Linked DNA regions of Homo sapiens: region 1 is linked to region 2. Evidence: fine-mapped expression QTL. Tissue or cell type: neutrophils. Region 2 holds a variant in brackets; the other region holds the start of a gene. All regions are shown on one strand. Distances are from middle to middle. Region 1 holds the start of AGPAT4 (1-acylglycerol-3-phosphate O-acyltransferase 4). Region 2 overlaps AGPAT4 (1-acylglycerol-3-phosphate O-acyltransferase 4).

The links.
Region 1: it holds the start of AGPAT4, and the variant in region 2 is fine-mapped to the expression of AGPAT4 in neutrophils (BLUEPRINT, PIP 0.95).

What each region holds. Positions count from the first base shown.
Region 1 is chr6:161,272,634-161,275,548 of GRCh38, forward strand. It overlaps AGPAT4 (1-acylglycerol-3-phosphate O-acyltransferase 4), which reads right to left and starts at 1,428. Exons shown (of 9, transcript NM_020133.3): 1 at 1,305-1,428.
Region 2 is chr6:161,206,955-161,209,869 of GRCh38, forward strand. All of the region lies in intron 2 of AGPAT4 (1-acylglycerol-3-phosphate O-acyltransferase 4), which reads right to left. Among named protein-coding and RNA genes, the nearest start is that of AGPAT4-IT1, 46 kb to the left of the region's middle. The variant A/AT (reference allele first, on the strand shown) is at 1,525.

The sequences.
Region 1 (2,915 bases), 66 kb after region 2:
AGAAGATGGAATCCTTTTAACGTAGAACTCAAGATGTGCCCTGTTCTCCCTGCCCGCCTCCCATTTCCCTAAACACACACACACACACACACACACACAAACACACACATTCTCCCTTCTCTCAAGATACTTTTTTTCCAACTGAGAGTCGTTGACTAATCACAGATGAGTTAATCCTTCCACAGTTTTGAAAAAGTCTAGCAACCCTCACCTTGAAGAGAGTGAATAGCGTGGCTAATCCATCTAAGAACAATGCACGAAAACGAAAAACGGAGAATCCTGCCCGGCAGTTAATTTGTTACTCATACTTGTTGAACTTAAGATTTGGAGCTAAATAAGTGCAGATGAGAGCAAAGACCCATCTTTTAAATATTTAAGCTTTTAGGCAAACCTGGGCAGGCAATATCACATTTATCAGTGCGAATTCTCCAATGCTCTCTAAAACTTTATTTCAATGATCTCACCTCCTGTAAGGAATTAATTCCCCCTTAGCTTGACCACAGGATCAATATCTTATCTTAAGAAGTGTTTAGGTTTTCTAAAAAAAGACCAGACACTGAAGACTTACATAAACATCAAAGCATTCTTTTTTTAATTCCTCGATATGGAGAAATTCATAGGCCGAAAATTAGGTAAATAGAGAGGTAATTACCAATGCCTGTTTCCTTGACAACTCCCCTCCCCCACCCCTCCTGTGATAGGGAAAAACCAAAATGAAAGTGAGGAGGGGTAGCCACAAGCCATGCTGGATTTTAGCAAACCAAAGCAAGAAGCAGAGCAGAAAGCTGCAAACTAGACACAAAATACAAATAAATCAATGTATATCGGGGCTGCATATTGTGTAGTATTTTTGTGGTTGCCATAGAAACGTCAGCGACGGAAGAACATGTTGCATGACACAAAAGAGAGCAATATGTAATAGGAACATTCCCCCCACCACCACCCCCCGCCCAGCTTCGTCTATAGCAGAGAAAATGCTTTAGCCCCGGGAGGGGGCTGGGTGGGTGGGTAAATGAAGCCAGGAACAGCAGCTTGAAATCACAGCCCAGAAAGGGACGCTCACCCGGCCCAGCACAAAGCGAGGGTCCTTTTGTACCAGCAGAGCCTCTCTTCGCCTCCCTCCAGGCGCCCCCTGCACCTTTCCCCCGCCCGCCTTGCACTCCCCCCCCGCCCCCGGAGCCTACCCCTTCCAGAGGTCCTAAGGAAATCCAGCCCAGGAGAGAAAAATATGCTGGGAAGAGGAATGCAAACATCAGCCACACCCAGCGGGGAAGGTGCCTGCGAACGGCACCAGGACCACATACCTCCTTCCTGGCAGCCTTTGGCACATGGACTTAGAAACCAGAAGCTGAGATGGAGCCGGCTGGGTTCAGAAATTGCCACTAGTTTATAAGAGCTGTAAGTCAGCCAACACTGGAAAGAAAAAGCGAGACTCCACCCATGGGGTGGACCCTTCAGGAAGAAAAAAAAAAAAAAAGTGGTCCTCAGCTGACGTCTCTCCCCACCCATGTCACTTCCTTTTAAAGCTACAAGTTAGCAGTTGCCGAGAGGGAAGAGCGAGCTGGTGTAATATGAGTCACTCCCTTCCCCTTCCAATTAGTGTAAGGCAGTGCTTCAGTTGGCTTCACGTTTGAAATCGCTTTTGAAATCTGGCTCGGGAAGCTGCCAGGATAAAAAAAAAATGAAAGCCCCCTGGAAGTGGCCTTGCTTTCTCTCCCCTTTCTCCCAAATCCTGTTGCATCCCTGCGCCCTAACGGCTCCTCTAACCTCAACCCAGACTCCGGCTCCGTCTGTGTTGCAACCTGGAAATTGTCCTCAGTTGGCTCATTTTTAATTCAGCAAGCGTAGGATCAATATGCCCACCCTCAAAACTCTCCCCTCACCTCTCCTCGGTCCGCTGTGCTGGAAGGAGATTGCGTTGCACTCAGAAGAGTCCAAATCATCTTAAACAAAATAAGCCTCAGCACTCAAGAGATTGAGATGTTATGAAGTGGGATGAAAGAAGCTTGGAGGTCGATTGATGTATTTTCTGTTTTCAAACCTTAGCACCATGGTTGATTACCACTGCACAGGCGTGCACACACGTACTGTCGCATGCTCACATGCACGTGGCATTTACACAGGTGTATCAGAGAGGGTCTGGGCAGACCTTTATAGTAAAAGTGTCTTCACAATTTTTAAAAAGGGTGGGCTGTTGAAAGTCCAGAAATGCCAGGATCTAGAAAATTATTTCAATTTCAAAATACTGAGGTGTATTCCTTTCAAATGTCCACTATTACAGCCATTGTCAAAATAATATTTAACTATTTACTTGACTCCTGGGTTAACCTTGTTCTTTAGATGTTTATAATCTATAAAGGAAAAATACATGTGCTCACAAATAGCCCAAGCACATTGCAGAATTACTAACAGCTATGCAAGTGTCAAAACCAGTGTGTCATGAAGACAGAATAGAAAGTGCTTTTTTGATTGCGATGGGGGAAGGCATTGATCATTCAGGAAACAGGGTTTGGAGTGGGTCCTATGGGAGGTGGCATTTTTCTTGTCTGTGATGAGAGACGGGGAGAGTGAAGCAGAATGTGGTGGAAGAGAAAGGATATGTGAGGCAAACAAAAAAAGGATCAGAACAGAAACCCATTTGTAGCAATAACTTGTTTTAATATCCATGTGAAAATAAATTTGACCACAGAGTAATGCTTATAAAAGATTTTTATAAAAAGTTCCTTGTAGTCATCATCTCTCGTAACTTTTCGAACTATGTTTTACGACCCATGTGCTTCTAGATTTGGTGGAAACTTGAGTTTTTCAAAGTGTTTTTCAAGTAGAGTTACACTGTTTTTCACGGTTGAATTCTGAATGGTAATTTATTTCAAAACCTACAAATTGCATAAATTCCTGATAATGTTATAAGTACA
Region 2 (2,915 bases):
GAAATCAGCTCATCTGGACAACAGAGAAAATAGGCTGAAAAATAGTCCTTTCAGTTATCTAATGGAATATTCCATGGACTTCCTGGTTTCCTTGAAAGTATAAAGCTACTGGCTAGGGACTTTTTCCAATGCAGATAAGAATTTAAGAGTCTTATGTTTCTACCAAATCTTTGTAGACAGTGTTATCTCTCTTTTGCAAAGAAGTGTGGACAATCAATTAGTGATTCCAGAAATCCTCTGGAAGTAAAATTGCTAAATGTCTTTAACTGCTTAAAAGTAGTAATGAAATCAGTCATTGAAGATATAAGAGCTCCTCTCGCTCCTAAATGCTCTTTTTGTATCCCTCTTCTCTCCAGTGAGTACCAGTGCCCTGCCTAACACAAAGACAGGATCCGTGAGAAAACAAAACTCCTGGGTTACGTGATCAGTCTCCAGGCTTTTTTGGGTACCAATTACCATGCAGCACGCTGGGCCATGCTGTGAAGATGCTATAAAGCTGGGTGAACACATTTAGTAAGAAGATAAAACAAGTGTAGTGCAAGGAATTTATGCTTTCAAAAAATATTTATCAGTGCCTGCAAGGTACAAAGCACTGCTCTCTATAGCTGGAGCCCTAGACAGAGATCCCTCCAACAAGCTCCACTTCCAGTGAATGGGGACCTGCGGAGGCGGAGAGAGATGACAGTAAACCACCGCCATAAAAAGTAAATGAATTAGTATGTTAGAAAGCGATATTCCTTTGATAATAGAAGGAAAGGTAGAATAGTAGAGGGGAAATGGGGATGGAGTGGAGGTTGGATATGGGGCAAGGAACATGAATTCACTGAGAGCAAGATTCAGTGACCCAGTGTTAGGGAAAGAGAAGTCCTAGGAGGAGGAGTTGCAGGGGAGAGAGGGATTCTGAGCAGCAGGTTGAGTGGGTGGGGACAGGAGTGTGGCCCCAGCCAGGAGTGGAAAACAGCCTGAAGCTTGAGTAGGAGCCCAAGGCTTAGCAAGACGGATGCAGATCATTCAAGGCATGCCTTGAAGACCTTTATCTTGGATATTCTTATGAGAGGTAGAACAATGAGAGCTGAGAGAGATGGTAATAACCCTTTCCTAGGCTTCATTATTAATATTTCCTCCACCTCACAATCCTGTTAGTCTTGTTCAAAACAAGGCTAGGCTGAGTTCCAATTCTAATAAGAAAAAAACTGAACTGTCAGAAAAACAGATTTTCTGAAAATCAAGTATATATTTTACATTTCAGTCTCCTTTTTTATATGAACGTTAGCTACCAAGACAAGCACTGTTACTAAAAGTAAGCTACTCAGTATTCAGAGACTCTCTCCAGATGCGCCCTCTGTGGAACTTCCCTAACAATGTGCTCTTGTACATTTATCATCTTTCTGGCTTTGGCAAGATCTCCCTTTTGTTCCCACCTTGAAGGCTTCTTGTTCTTAACAGCTCAATTAAACTCATGTACACACTTATGTATACAAATGCACGCACACACACCCACCCCCAACATCTGCAGGTTTAAGC[A/AT]TTTTTTTTTTCCATAATGTTCACAAAGTTTAAGACAAAACCCAATAACGCATATGATAACCACTGTCTCCTTAGGTCAAATTTGAATTCACTTAAAACAACGATAGCAAAAAAATACTTGCAATGAACAACTTGGTTAAAAAAAGGTAACTATCATTCATCACTTAGATCTTCAAGATTCACAGCAACAGAAAAACAATTCAGAAAAAAGAAATGCAAAAGAAGTCTATGTGTTCAAAAGAAAACTATTTGGTGCTGATTTATTTAAATAAAAAATTATTTCCCAAGTATTTACATAAGGCACAATAAAATTTGATTTGAAGTCTATCAATTCATAATTTGTAACAATTCAAGCCGAAGGCCAGGATGAAATGCACAGCTGCCTAACAGGAAAAAAATCATTAATAATCAGGTGAAACAATGTAATCAGAACTACCATTGGGGAACACAAGCAAACCCACACCAGAAAGAGTCCCTAAAACGGCAATCATGACCTTGTGTTAATTACTGGGGAAGAAAACGCACATCGAACAGGAAAGGCTGACTTTCAAGGAAAAAAAAGTGTAAACCAAATGAAAGAAGTTGGGTTGCCCATAAATCAGCTTGAAACCTGGTGATAAGTGGGCAGACATCACTTTGGTGCTAGAATGAGGCATTCCTCATCGAAGTGGAACTTTGATGAGTGACATGAGTTCCCCCACTCCAGCACCCTCTGGAGAAGAGCTGAGCAGAAAGCCACAATGAGGAATCCCAAAGGCTTGCTTGGAGGTGATGGCTGCTTTCTTCTCTACTGGGCTTGAATTAATCCATGGGCACCTATCAATTTCACCAACAGCTGTGACACTGTATGAGCCATGGAGCTGGATAAAAGGGCTTCATTACCACTCCTCTATGAGGAAAGCCTTGCCAAGCTGCTAGAAAATTTTTTGCAAATTTAGCTGTAAAATACGTTGATTGTTCTAACAAAGCCAGAAAGAGAAGGGAACTTTTCTGTTCCCTTTGTTGCTGATCCTGATACTCTGTTCCACAGCCTTGGGCATAATGAGGAGTTGGGACCAGTAGAACAGGGGGACTCTGAAAGCACAGACCAGGAGAGACCTGAATTGAGCATGTTCATAGCATGTTCATAGCAAGACTCCATGTCAGACCCGAACAGGCTCCTCGAGGGTCAGACAGGCAAAGCCTTCGATTTTCCCATGGAGATATAAGCCCCAAAAGAGCACGGAATGGGTCCTCATTTGTCTGTCCAGCTTTCGGAACAGTATGTACCTTAAGCAGGTGTTCAACCGACGTTTGTTGAATAAATGAATTAAGTCAATCAAGGCATAAATAGATGATTGGTCAGAGACCAGGCAGGATGTGATGAAGAACAGAAATATCAGGAGGTGAAA